Homo sapiens: one gene and its partners. The protein of the gene in region 3 interacts with the protein of the main gene of each other region in a pairwise test. Each region holds a gene or a part of one and is shown on either strand. Other genes may lie near its edges.

Region 1 (3,568 bases), on a different chromosome or scaffold from region 3:
TGTATTTTTTGTAGAGATGGGGTTTCCCCATGTTGCCCAGGCTGGTCTCAAATTCCTAGGCTCAAGTGATCTGCCCACCTGGGCCTCCCAAAGTGCTGGGACTCTAGGTGTGAGCCACCACGCCTGGTCTCTTTCTCTCTCTCTCTCTCTCTCTTTTCCAGACAAGATCTCATTGTGTCACCCAGGCTGGAGTGCAGCAGTGCAATCATGGCTCACTGCAGCCTCAACCTCCTAGGCGCAAGCAATCCTCCCTCTTCAGCCTTCGGAGTAACTGGGACTACAGGCACGCACCAGCACACCCAACTAATTTTCATATTTTTTTTATTTCATAGAGATGGGGTCCTCCTTATGTTGCCCAGGCTGGTCTGGATCTCCTGGGCTCAAGCAATCATCCTGCCTCGGCCTCCCAAAGTGCTGGCAAGCCACCTTACCTAGCAGTGATCTCATTTTGTTTGAGAGTTAGGTGTTCCTTTCTCAGCATCTTCATAAACCCCTGGCCCCTGCCAAGCAGTGAAAGCATCTCCTTCCTCTTTCGCAGCTGCCTCTCCTCTCACCCTTTCCTCCTTTCCTGTGGGCACCATATCCATACAGTGGATGGGGGTGAAGACTGCCTCTTAGCCACAGCCACATACATGTACCCCAGATCCTTGTTTCTGTCAGATGGCCAATGGGGTATAGTGGAGTCAAATCAACTTGGGTGCAGATCTCGGCCCAAGTCATGTTAGTACATGACTTGTTAGGTGTCCTTAGATAAGTTAGGTGTCCTTAGGTAAGTTACTTTCTCTGACTTCAGTGTCCTCATCTGGAAAGTGATGATAACAATAGTAATCAGGTAGGGATGCTATGAGGATTAGTAGTCCTTGTAAGTATGTGACCCAGTGCCTAATATACACTCTCCCTTCTTTCATGGCCTGAAACCTCCACCATTAAGTCTAGATGGGCAACAACTTGAGCAAGCACTGTTGGAAAGGCAGCAAGCATCCCAGCTCTTCTGCTCAGAAGCTGAGTAAATGCCAGACAAGTCTTTTAACCTCCCTGAACTGAGCCTTGTTTTTCTCATCTCTGCAATGGGACCTTGATCCTCCTATGGTTGCTGGGATGATCCAGTGAAATAACACATGAGAAAGGACTTTTGGAAAATGTCAAGCACTCTGCAAATATTAGTTGTTGCTCTGGTCTCAGAAAGGCCATCAAGCCCTCTCCTGTTGGTATGGTTCCTTGGGTCCATTGGTCTCTCATCCTGGAAATCACAGAAAGCTTGGCTTCTCGAAGGTGAGACAGAGCTAAAGGCCATCCAGTGGGGAGGGGGTGGAGAGAGGAATACTGGCAACATGCCATGGGTGGCCGGGGGCAGGCCCGAACTGATGGGGTGCTGGAGGAGGATGGAGGGGCACAGCATGGGGAACTGCCAAAGAGATATCTAACCTTTTGAACTATTTTCTGGGCGAGCTTCAGCAAGCCCCCAACCCCCTGCATGTGCTCTTAGCTGACAGGGGGATTTCTTTTCCCTAGGAAACATTAACTGGCATCTTTCTATAGATGAGGCATGAATGTGCTTTTGTTGGAGGCCGATGGGGGAGGGTAGAAGTGCAAAAAAAGGAGACAAATACATCTGTAACCTCTGGAGCATGCCCCAGTGGATGATGGGAAAAGTTTAAAAGAAACCTGTTTTCAACTAGCTGGACTGTCCCATCTGCATCTAAGATCCACACACAAAGCTGACACAGAGAATGGCAAAGGAGGACAGAGACAAAGAGAAACTCACACACAGAAAGAAGCAGCAAGGGAGACAGAGAAACTTACACTGATGGATAATTAACCATTAAGTTAACTGGCAGAAGATAGAAGCTCAGAAGCCCTAAGGAAGAAATGATGTCATTCTGACTGCAGGCAGCTTCCAAGGAACACTTAGCTCAGCCTCCATCCACTTGATAATGTAACACAGGAAGGTATTTTTTTTCCCCCAGTGATCAGTAGAGGAACAGAAACTCACAGTCCTGAGCTGTACCTGCCCATAGCCACAGCTGACCTGCAGTTTGTCTTGTCCCCAGGGCTGGGGCACAGGGAGTGCCCAGCCTGTGGGAGGAACCAAACTATTATAGACAGAAGTGAAGCTTCCATGCAAATATACAAAGAATGATTCAAAAATTAGTTTCTTAGCCTCCCCTCTACTACATACCCTCCCTCTCTACACACACACACACACCCCTATTCGGCATTTTCCAATGCATTTAGGAGACAGACTCAATAAATTTAGCTACATCTGTAGGTGACAGACACATCATAGTCATTAAGGGAAGCTCCACTCTTCCTTTGGGGGCTGGGGGATGCCTCCACCCTTCCTAGGCTGATGTCAGGAAAGACTGTCAGCTATCTCTTATGATGTCCCTCTGGATTCTTGTCATAGGTGGCCTTGTGGGTTGGATGGACCATGGAGCTAGGCTGGAGAGAGGATTTTGTGCCAGGCAGCATGATGTGTGGAAAGAGCACCAGAAAGGGAATTAGGAGACATGAGTTCTAGGCCTGGCCCTGTGTGATCTTGGGCAAGTCACTTTCCCTCTCTGAGTCTCAGTTTCCTATCTGCAAGAGGAGGACACTGGATCACAGAATCTGTAACATCTCTTTTATCTCTGAACATTTTCTGCATCTCACACCTGAGTTGAGATAATCAAGGTGCAAAAAGTAAACCCAGGGCTCCCGCCTGTAATCCCAGCACTTTGGGAGGTCGAGGCAGGTGGATCACCTGAGGTCAGGAGTTCGAGACCAGCCTGGCTAACATGGTGAAACCCCATCTCTACTAAAAATATAAAAATTAGCTGGGCATCATGGCAGGTGCCTATAATCCCAGCTACTCAGGAGGCTGAGGCAGGAGAACTGCTTGAACCCAGGAGGCCGAGGTTGCAGTGAGCTGAGATCGTGCCATTGCACTCCAGCTTGGGCAACAAGAGTGAAACTCCCTCTCAAAAAAAAAAAAAAAAAAAAAGTAAACCCAGTTGAGTTCTGTGTGTCCTGGATACAAATTGAAGGAGACATCTGAAAGGCTCCTGGGGGCCTTGGGCTATAACCCTAAGTCCCTGGCCTAGAAGAAAGAGCAAGACTGGCTGCCTGGCATTCTATCTCCCCCTGTCAAACTCCCCCAATCTAGGGGACTGAATATTGTCCTGTAGAGTGAAATGCAGTGGTAAAGGGCATGGTCTCTGAATCTGGGTTGAAATCGTGGCCCTGTAACAGGAAAGGTAGGATAGTGAGGTGGCGAAGTGCTTGGGCTCAAGAGTCAAAGGCTGAAGCTCAGATCCATGTGCCACTGGGTTATTTCATCTCTCTTAGCCTCAGTCTCCTTATCTATAAAATGGGAATGATAACAATACTGCTGATTTCATAAAGCTGCTGTGAGGAGTAAATAAGATAATGCATGTAAAGTGCCTAGCCTGGGCTCTTTGCTTATTCAATACATAGTTGTTATTATTATTATTATTATTGCCTACTCATTGGAGGCTTTTCTTGATGTTCATACAATTGAGTTCATCAGGACTCAATTGTAAATGCTTTGATGGGGTGAGGGTGGGGA
Region 2 (3,568 bases), on a different chromosome or scaffold from region 3:
CAAGGGGGCAAGCTTCTAAAAAGAAGCTATTTTAATTTCAGCACACGTGGACATTTTTGTGATTTCAAAAAGCAAAATGTTGTTTTAAATTATGTATGGGTCCTACATTTTATACATGGGGCTCTTGGGTCATTTCAGCATCTGCAGCCTCTGAAGGACGAATATTTATAATTTTTAAGGCTGTTCAGGAAAAAACTAAAAAGAACGACAACCCCAAGACATAGCTGAAGGAAGTGCACAAAAACACTCAGAAGGAATGGTGGATTCTCAGTGGGATGGGTCTGTTTGGGTCTGTGTGCTGAAAAGCCATTTCGGTGACCTCACTGGAAGTGGAGGCTCAGCTCTCCCTACTCACAGGTGAGAGGGATCCCTCCCATTGCACGTGTGACTTCAGTGTTCTGGAACCTCCCTGACCCCTTCACCTCATGTCCTCAGGACTCTTCCTTTGGGTGGATAGAAGCTGGGTTGAATATTAGATTTGGTTGCTGTGTCAGAGGGGAGCACGGGGAGGGGGTGGGGGGTGCTGTGTTGAGTGCATCTGTAAGTGAGTGCGTTTTGGAGGAGGAATGCTAATGGCAGACATCCCAGCTCTTTGTAGCCCTGAACGCCACTACTCTCCCCGGCCCCCGCACACCTTGCGATATTCTACCATGGTCACTGATCTGAAGGACTCCAGATTCTAGCCTTAACTCTGCTTCCTGGGGGGGCTGTGCACCCTTGATTCAGTTCCTCTCCCACTCTGGCCTGTGTGTCTTCTTCTAGAATGGTTGAAAGTGCAAGAAGCCCTCAGGCAGGCTGACTAGGCGCCAGAAGGAGCTTAGAGTCCTGGGCCCTCAGAAAGTCTCTCTCCTAAGTGAGATCAGAGATCACAAATGAGACACACACGCTCCTTTCCTCCTTCACCCACCCACCTCCCCAAAAGCATCAATTTAGCAGACATTTGCTGGGTGCTCGTGACACATCAAGCTATGCACCCTGGGAGGAATGAAGATGTCAAACCATCCACCTGGGGCCCCTGGGTGGCAGTGACTTATTCTCACTCTCTTTCAGAGGTGGCTGATGCCTGGCAGAATTTGGGGCTTTGAGGTTTCATGGAGATTGAGAAACCAAGTGTGTTAGGGGGTGAGGGGGCAGGAGAGGGGCTGGCTGAACCCACAGGCCTCCCATATATGCCCTCCCCCCAGGGTGCCACTGTGTCCCTCTGGGAGACGGTGCAGAAATGGCGAGAATACCGACGCCAGTGCCAGCGCTCCCTGACTGAGGATCCACCTCCTGCCACAGGTGAGTCCATGTAGGCTCCCCACCTTTAGTGCTCCCCACCCAACCAACTTCTGGAGGACTTTGATGAACTCAATGTCCATGGCTGGGAGCCATTTGCCTCTATAGGATGCCACCCCTGCCCTCTGCCTTCATCTCATTGTCCAAGCTACTCCTTCACCTGGATACCTTCCTTTCTGCCGACCAAAATCTTCCTTTTCTTCAAAGTCCGCGGAAGCACTGCCTCCTCCAGAAAATCTTCCCCAGGACTTCTGCCATCATTTGGCCCTTACTCGTTTGCTGTAGTCTGCTTTGGGGTTGCTGTCTTATTTCTGTCTTAGCTGTCTTATCTGTGTGTCCTTCCCTGCACCGCCGGCCAGCCCCCCAGCTAGAGCCTCTCAGAGCAGGCACCCGGCCTTTCCATTTTTGTCCTCAGCACCTCCCAGCCTGTGCATGGACTGAGGGCTCCACAAACATATTTATAGGAATAAATGTTTCAGGGAGTTCACAAGGTGGTTTAAAGAGCACGGGATTGGAGCCCGCTGGGCCTAGGTTGAAATCCTGACTGTAATTATAACACGTGACCTAAAGAAGGTTATCTTAAGTGAGATCAGAAGGAAGGTAAGCTAACATTTCCCTCTAATCTGTGAAGTGCAATTTAAGAATAGGCCCATAGGGATTTTTCATTGAGCACGTACTATGTTCCATTATCTATGTAGCATATAGTCTTGATCCCACAAAACCCTATGGGGCTGGAAATACTCCTGTTTTACAGATCAGGAAACAGACATTAAGTTACTTGCTCAAGGTCCTGCCACTGATAAGTGGCAAGTGCCCCTGCTTGGCTCTTGCTGGGTGGGGAAAGTGCTTGGCATACAGTAAGCATTCAGCAGAGGTTAGTGGCATGCAGCCTCCGAGGAGGGGAGGGGTCTTGGGGAAGGGAGGGAAAGGGCCATGGCCAGTCACAAGCAGGGACTCAGAGACTGTTCTTTCTGCTCCCAGACTTGTTCTGCAACCGGACCTTCGATGAATACGCCTGCTGGCCAGATGGGGAGCCAGGCTCGTTCGTGAATGTCAGCTGCCCCTGGTACCTGCCCTGGGCCAGCAGTGGTGAGCCCCCTCCCCGACCTGGTACCTGCCCTGGGCCAGCAGTGGTGAACCCCCTCCCCGACCTGGTATCTGCCCTGGGCCAGCAGTGGTGAGCCCCCTCCCCGACCTGATACCTGCCCTGGGCCAGCAGTGGTGAGCCCCCTCCCTGACCTGGTACCTGCCCTGGGCCAGCAGTGGTGAGCCCCCTCCCTAACCTGGTACCTGCCGTGGGTCAGCAGTGGTGAGCCCCCTCCCTAACCTGGTACCTGCCGTGGGTCAGCAGTGGTGAGCCCCCTCCCTGACCTGGTACCTGCCCTGGGTCAGCAGTGGTGAGCTCCCTCCCCCACCGTCCCCTGTATCGAGGAGGCTGAGGTCAAGGCGCTGCTTCCTTTCCTCTGAGACACAGCCCTCCCCACCCAGAATGTCTTTAGGCCTCCTAGTGAGTGGTCCGCCTGCCTTTCCTGGGGTGAGGGGAGCAGTCAGTAGTGATAAGTTTCATGATGGCCTGAGGTACCACCTGGGTCTGGGCGTGAGGCCAGTGCTGGCCAGTGTGTGGGGAAGGGAAAGTAAGTGTCTGAAGAGAAATGCGACCCCTTCCAATTCAGTAGTCAGGAAAAGAGCTGGGTGGGGACAGACTCTTGCGGGGAGGGAAGCTACCCAGGGTGTCTGCTGTGTGTATACATGTATGTATGATATGTGTATGCAGGTGGCCCATACCTGGCAGTGACATTTAGCTACTTCCTCACTCTTTAGAGGTTCACTGGGAGAAGTGATCAGGGCATTGGTGGGGTGACGAACCCCACCAGACTCAGCCCTCCTCAGCTCACTCCTGCCTGCAAGGGGGACCTTGTACTGGGGAAGATGTGACTGGGTAGGTGGGAAGGTCATTTCATTGGGGGTACAGAGATTTGCAGAGGCTGCAAGAGGATCCCTGACTGGAGGGTTAGTTAATGTGCCCCGCTATCTATCCCAGCCTCCCTTGCTGAGCCCAGTTTCACCCAGGCACCGTGGAGGATAACAGGAGACAAGCACCCTCATGGCAAGGAGCTCCCAGTCTCCATAAGGGGAGAAAAGATATTTCCCTATCATCATCATCATCATCATCATCATCACCATCACCATCATCATCGTCATCATAGCCAGCATTTATTGAGTACCTACTGTGTGCCAAGTCCTGCCCTAAAAGCAGGGCTTTATAACTACCCTGTGGTTATACCTGCTG
Region 3 (3,568 bases):
GCACTGTGGCTCATGCCTATAATCCCAGCACTTTGAGAGGCTAAGGCAGGAGGATCGCTTGAGCCCAGGAGTTCAATACCAGCCTAGGCAACATAGTGAGACCTCGTCTCTATCAAAATAAAAATAATTAGGTCGGACGCAGTAGCTCACACCTGTAATCCCAGCATTTTAGGAGGCCAAGGAGGGTGGATCTCCTGAGGTCAGGAGTTCAAGACCAGCCTGACCAACATGGTGAAACCCTGCCTCTACTAAAAATACAAAAATTAGCTGGGCATGGTGGCACATGCCTATAATCCCAGCTACTTGGGAGGCTGAAGCAGGAGAATCGCTTGAATCCAGGAGGCGGATGGTGCAGTGAGCAGAGATCGTGCCACTGCACTCCACCCTGGGTGACAGAGTGAGACTCCATCTCAAAAAAAAAAAAAAAAAAAAAAAAGAATTAGCAATATTAAATCTCAAGAATAAGGAAATCCACAGAGTCAGAAAGCAGATTAATAGTTGTCAGAGAATTGAGGGGAGGGAAGAACGGTGAATTACTGCTAACAGATATGGGGTTTCTCTTTGGGGTAATAAAAATGTTCTGGAATTAGATAGTGGAGATAGCTGTACAACCTTGTGCATACACTAAAACCCACCTTAAAATGGTGAATTTTATGGAGACAGAGGATGAAAAGCCAGTGAGAGTGAGTATGTGGTGTCACAGAAGACAAATTAAAAAAGCATTTCAAGGAGAGAATAATCAATTATGTCAAAAGCTGTTGTGAAAGCATGTTAAGAGGAGGATGAAGTGACCACTGAATTTAACAATGTGGAAAATATCTGGTGAACTTGACTAGAAAGTTTCTGTAGAGCAGTGAAATAAAAAGGCACCTGGCTTAAGAACCGTGGAGCCAGAAATTAAGACTTTTAAATTAAACTGATCACTGAATTCAAAAGGGTAACTGAGCCACTTTTACTACATGTTGCTTCAAATCTTAAAGCGTGGGCATTAAACTCTCTGTGCCTGAGTCCCCATCTGTAAGAAGGGGGTTATATCGCTACCTGTCTACCTCACAGATAAACATAATACAAGTCTTTCCTCTATAGAATATGGCCTCTAGAGGAATGATCTATATTTTATTTACCTTTCTGTCTTCCACAGCACCTGGCAAAGAGCCTTCATGTATGCTCAGTTGTTGAATTAAGGTAACATATGGGCACAACTTAAATCATAAAGCAGTACACAAATGTAAGATATCGTGAAAATCAAGTACTTCTATCTCATACGTAAAATAAAGACAATGCCCTCCACTGAAATATGTTCAAATAACAGGACACAATTTTCATAACAAAAGGTTTTCCAGAATGTCCTTCCATATATCTTGAAGGGCGAGCTACCAATGAGGAACAGGTCAAAAAGCTCACCGTTCCCTCTGGTTAAGTTATGATGATATGGTTACAGGAGATAATAAATCAGTTGATTGGAGAAAACAGGTAAGAATAGTTCTTTGAGACTGGGTGTGGTGGCTCACATCTGTAATCCCAGCACTGTGGGAGGCCGAGGCGGGGGCAGTTCACTTGAGGTCAGGAGTTCGGGACCAGCCTGACCAACATGGTGAAACCCCATCTCTACTAAAAATACAAAAATTAGCTGGGCATGGTGGCACAAGCCTGCAATCCCACCTACTCAGGGGGCTGAGGCAGGAGAATCGCTTGAACCCGGGGGGCGGAGGTTGCAGTGAGCAGAGATCCCACCACTGCACTCCAGCCTGAGCAACAGAGGGGGATTCTGTCTCAAAAAAATAGTTCTTTGAAATAAAAAAAAAAAAATCAAAAATCACAAGAGTGGGCCACTTGCTGATAAGCTCACTGTCTTCTCTGGTTAGGTTACAATGATATGGTTATAGGAGATAATAAATCAGTTGATTGGAGAAAACAGGTAAGAATAGTTATTTGAAATAAAAAAAAAAAATCACAAGAGCAGGCCACTTGCTGATAATCTTCTCCCATACGTAAAATGGAAATGCAAACCCCGTTACAGTATTTAAAGAGATTCTCTCTGAGGTTGCAATATCACAGAGTAACATGTCTTACAAAACTCACAGATGCCCAGAAGACTTCAATGATGCAATCACAAGCAATACTGATTACAGCTAAACTTATTTAACACACACACTTCTTTCAAAACATCAACACCATACCCTATGATCCAAAATAACTCTACAACTAGTAGCTGTCATAAATGAACAGAATAGAAGGTTAAGTCAGTTTTCTGGGCAACTTCTGAATAAGTCAATTATAAGAACAAAATATCGACCTGCTAATTTTTGTCTAAAAAGTTTTACTATGAGTGCTTACTTCAGCAGCACATATACCAAAATTAGAACAATACAAAGAGTATTAGCTAAATTAAGAGAAAAAGTTATACTACAAAATTGATGAATTTTTCACAAGTTTGTATACTTTAGGAGGCTAAATTCATCATCAACAATAAAGTTAACACAAACTATAAGCTAAGTGCACACAACAAATATGCACATTTATATTAGAAAACCTACTTACTTAATGAAGCCTTTGTAATTCTGTTCAGAATTACAAAAATGGTAAATTCTAGGATTATGGGTAAAGAGAAGTGTCTTTCTGCAAAATATACTCTTGACTCAAACAAAATTGGAAAGCTCAACTTTCCCTTTTCCCTTCAACCAGACGTCACCAATTCCTTCATGACCAAACTTCATTTTACAAGGCTTGAAACATGCACAGGACTAGACAGGTAACTCCTATATCAGGATAAATATATTATTTCCTCACAGGATAATTTGATAAAAGCAGTAATATTGGTTTTTATTTTCAGCCCATCTTTAAAACACCAAGAATAAAAACACTGAGGTTCTTACCAGCCACTTAATGAACAACCCCTTAGAAATGACAATTTAGGGTAAGGGTGCACCTACTAAATGTATGTAGATTGGTTGTTTAATTTGATCAGAGTGGTTCCATTACTTGTGAATTTGACAATAAACAAAAACAGCATTAAAAAAAAACTTCTTGGCCGGGCGTGGTGGCTCACGCCTGTAATCCCAGCACTTTGGGAAGCCAAGGCTGGCGGATCATGAGGTCAGGAGATCAAGACCATCCTGGCTAACATGGTGAAACCCTGTCTCTACTAAAAACACAAAAAATTAGCCAGGCGTGGTGGTGGGCACCTGTAGTCCCAGCTACTGGGAAGCTGAGGCAGGAGAATGGCATGAACCTGGGAGATGGAGGTTGCAGTGAGCTGAGATCGCACCACTGCACTCCCGCCTGGGCGACAGAGCGAGACTCCGTCTCAAAAAAAAAAAAAAAAAAGCAAAACACACTTCTTATTCTTGGAGAATAAAAACAATCCAAGTCAGCAGGCATTTGCAGGCCATATTGACATGACCATTCTTGCTGTCTCCTGTATGCTTGCCTCTGTGCTGAAAGGGGTTTCCTAATGTATCATAACAACATTTATTAGTCAGAATCTGCATAAGTATTTAAGCATATTGATTCATGCCAAGCCTTCTGGGAAACATCTTGACTCCTCCCTCTACCTCTTTAACAGACC
Region 4 (4,063 bases), on a different chromosome or scaffold from region 3:
CCTCCTCTTGGTTTTATTTTTAATGAAAGGCAGAAATGGGCAAAGGTCATAGTCCAAGGCATCCAGAACCTCTGTCTAGTAATGTCCACATCTAGCCTGTTGAATGCAACCCTAAGGATTAAGAAGTAATGATTGGGAGGCCAAGACAGGTGGATCACCTGAGGTCAGGATTTCAAGACCAGCCTGGCCAACATGGGGAAACCCTGTCTCAACTAAAAATACAAAAAAATTAGCTGGGCGTGGTGGTGGGCACCTGTAATCCCAGCTACTTCAGGAGGCTGAGGCAGGAGAATCGCTTGAACCCAGCAGGCGGAGGTTGCAGTGAGCCAAGATAGTACCATTGCACTCCAGCCTGAGCGACAAGAGCGAAACTCTGTCTCAAAAAAAAAAAAAAAAAAAAGTACAATGAATGCCCCAAAGTAATCCCATCTCCTCTCAGATATAAAGAAAATGACAATGGACAGTTATGTCTGGGTTTCAAGTTCATCTTTTATGATAAAAGACAGATCTGAGCCAATTCCAAACTTTCTCTAAACCCTTTAGGTGATCCAGCCTCTTTGACGTTCTCTTCATATGGGGTATGAGTTCAAAGACACTATGGCACTAGTCCCCTTACTTCTTCCTGAGGGTCAAAATAGAAGACAGATGACACTGCTTACAGCTGCACTTCCTTGGTCAAGTCACTTTTCTGAAAAATCTCGTCCCACATTATAAAACACCATTACTAGCATGTGCTTGTCTTTTCTTACAAAACTTTCATCAATACTGCAAGTTAAACTATGGCAAAACATTTACAATAAAGAATATCATATATAGTATAAGGGAGATGATGCTATTGCTGTGCTCATCTCACATCAATGAATTTGAAAACTGTGATGGTGTATGTTTAAGGAAAGATGCTGTCAGAGGATTTATGAGTCTCCCTTCAGCAGCTGCTGCTCTAGAGCATGGAGAGATGCATTCTTTTTCCTGGCTTTGGAGGATGTATGTAAGATGGGAAAAGGAAGTCTAGCGGATGTGACAAAAGTTTCAGGGATAGCCCCCAAACATATTTCAGAGATGCTAGGAGGTTAGGGCTATACCTTTATCCAGAGTCCATCCAAGGGATTCCTCCACCATAATGTGGAAAGTTGCCTCTCCTTTTCTCCTTTCTTCCTCATACTTTCATTATTTGAGTCACCTTACTGCTCTCTGGATACTGTATCCCTACAAAATCATTATTCTCTTAAGTGGTCACAACATGCTGCAGCCCTAGCCAACCTGGTGGTTTGCTATTCCTTTATGTGACTCAAACTTTTTAGCACTAACAGCGCTGGCCACCACAGTTACCCTAATTATCTAAAATTCTTTTGACATTGCTTGTCTCTCCTATAATCAATTCCTGATCCAGGGATAATTCTCCTTTATTTTCTACCCCCTTCAGAAGGAAGAAGGTTTTGAAGGGTCAGGAATAGGGCTTCTCTGGGTGCTTTGTTTTGTGGCACTAGGTTGATTGCTTCCTGGAGCCTTTGCCAATCCACAAAGCAATCAGCAGAACTGCCTGGGCAGCCTCAGTTTAATCACAGAATAGAGAAAATCTTGTCCTACCAAAGGTGATCTTCAGGTAACAATGTTCCCAGATATTGGCTCAAAGCACAAACTCACACATAAAGCACAAACTCAATGATCCACAGTAACTGTCAATACACCCACAACAAATAATTAACAACTACTTTATTCAAGTACCAACCTTCATCATCAGAAACATAAACTAAGGACTGGCACTCAAGCAAGTACTTCTCTTTTTTGGGGGGGAGGGGCGCGGAGTTTCACTCTTGTTGCCTACGCTGGAGTGCAGTGGCGTGGTCTCTGCTCGCTCCAACCTCTGCCTCCCGGGTACAAGTGATTCTCCTGCCTCAGCCTCCCGAGTAGCAGGGATTACAGGCGCGCGCCACCACTCCCACCTAATTTTTGTATTTTTAGTAGAGAACGGGTTTCACCGTATTGGCCAGGCTGGTCTCGACCTCAGGTGATCCGCCCGCCTTGGCCTCCCAAAGTGCTGGGATTACAGGCGTGAGCCACTGCGCCCGGCCAAGCAAGTACTTCATCTCTGTGTGCCTCAATTTCCTTATCTGTAACATGGGCATAATAATAGTACATTACTTCATAGGGTTGATGCAAGGATTAAATGAGTTAATGCAGGTAAAAACTCTTGGAGCAGTGCCTGCACTCAGTAAGCACCTGGGAAACACCCCAGTACCGAAGACCTCCCTCGCCCAGCTAGAGGGGAAGCAGGGAGCAACCCTGCTCTTTTTCATCTCCCAGGGATACACCCGGGGAAAACCACTGGCTGTCACTGCCGCAGAGGGACTAGGCTGGCCCGCCAGTGAGACGAGCGCTGGGGGCTTCATGACCCCACGCCACGCGGCGTCCCAACCGTGGAGGTGCCTCCTGACCCGACCTGCAGCCAAACCACACGCGACCCTTTCGCCCGTTTCCTTCGAAGAACCCGTGTTTCCGCTTTCCAGAACCTCTAAGAGCACCCACCTTGGTCCCGGGGCCCTGTAAGCCTCACTCACCGGCCGCCTCCGGCCGAGTACCCCCGACACACCCCGGGCGGGTCCCGCACTTGGAGCGGAACCTGAGTGCGCTGGGCTTGGGGAAGTCGGAAGGATTAAAGAGAAACCCATGCGTCGAACCGCTGCTCCAACGCCCATCAGGTTCCCTAAGATCACAGGCACTCTTCCACTCAGACTGCTGCTGATCATGCTCTGCTCGGTATGCGGGACCAGTCATTGTCTGGGCAGTCGCCTGGACCTAAGTCTCCTGACGCGGACGACCAGTTGCAAAACAGAGACCACACTGAGACTGAGCAACGTATCAGCAGCGGTCGCAGCTCTGCGCTTGCGCCTGAGAGCCAGCTACAGCAGGGCTGTGCTGGGATTCACTTTCGTGGAAGGTTTTGCAAAGCCCCTCCCCTGGTATGCGAGAGGCTGAGAGGTTGGCGCTAGAGGCAAGAGGAAGGGGGTCTGCGAGAGGTGCCGAAGACCACCTTAATACACTGCAAAGTATAGCCTAGACCGGTGGTTCACAGAGTTTTAAATAGCGTACACAAATAAATCACCAAGTGAGCTTGTTAAAATACAGCTTCACAAGATTTACACTCCGAGATTGACTCGTTGGCCCGGAACATTGCATTTTCAAGGGGCACCCCAGATGATTCTGATGCAAGTGGTCTCTCCAGCCTGTCTGGAGAAACTGGCTCCGTTGCACAATCTAGTTGCTTAAATACTGTTAAATGCAAGACATGTCTCAAATTTCACCAAAAGAAAAAAATGAATAAAATCAGGACACTACCCTAATCTAGTAGATTTTTTAAAATTCCAGATAATTTTAATATAAGGTAATGAAGTTGCACAATGTGCCCTGGGAGTTCAGAGCAGGGGAAACTTATGGAACGAGGGACACTGGAGTGGTTTGACTAATGGAAGATTTAATGGAAAACATAAAGGAGGGCAACCTTACAAATAGTTGAGGAACTAGAAGAGTGGAAAGCATGTGCAAAACTGCAGGTCTGATACATGACAGCTGTGCACAAGTACCATAGAAACATCAAGTAAGTATAAAGCATGAGCCATGAAGTACAAAGGAGCAGGATCCAAATTATAAAGCTGGAAAGAATTAGATAAAGTCTAATTTTATCATTTCCTATTTTTAAAAATTAAAAACACTTTCAAACTGTGGTAAACTATGCACAACATTAAAGTTACCATTTTAAAGTCATACAGTAAAGTTTTTAGCGTATTCACAACAGCACCGTCACTATCTAATTCTAGAACATTTTCGTCATCCCTAAAGATGCCCATTGAGCAGTCTCTATTCCCTGCTCCCCACAGTCCCTGGTAACCTTTATTTTACACTATGTTTCTATGAATTTGCCTGTTCTAGATATGCCATATAAGTAAAATAATACAATATTTGTCTATTTATGTCTGGATTATTTTTAATTAGCATAAAGTTTTCAAGGTTCATTCATACTGCAGCATGTATCCTTCATGCCTTTTAATGGCTAAATAATATTCCT

Evidence for each region.
Region 1: the proteins of RTN3 (region 3) and RAB33A interact in a two-hybrid assay, tested with the Homo sapiens proteins (one large-scale study listed by BioGRID and IntAct).
Region 2: the proteins of RTN3 (region 3) and GLP1R interact in a protein complementation assay, tested with the Homo sapiens proteins (one study listed by BioGRID).
Region 4: the proteins of RTN3 (region 3) and ZNF391 interact in a two-hybrid assay, tested with the Homo sapiens proteins (one large-scale study listed by BioGRID).

The regions. Positions count from the first base shown.
Region 1 is NC_000023.11:130,174,908-130,178,475, reverse strand, and holds part of RAB33A (ras-related protein Rab-33A), read right to left. Parts: intron 1-3,568.
Region 2 is NC_000006.12:39,055,213-39,058,780, forward strand, and holds part of GLP1R (glucagon-like peptide 1 receptor precursor), read left to right. Parts: intron 1-1,184; coding exon 1,185-1,281; intron 1,282-2,259; coding exon 2,260-2,367; intron 2,368-3,568.
Region 3 is NC_000011.10:63,687,983-63,691,550, reverse strand, and holds part of RTN3 (reticulon-3), read right to left. Parts: intron 1-3,568. UniProt on the Homo sapiens protein: May be involved in membrane trafficking in the early secretory pathway. Inhibits BACE1 activity and amyloid precursor protein processing. May induce caspase-8 cascade and apoptosis.
Region 4 is NC_000006.12:27,387,539-27,391,601, reverse strand, and holds the start of ZNF391 (zinc finger protein 391), read right to left. Parts: upstream 2,844-4,063; 5' UTR 2,527-2,843; intron 1-2,526.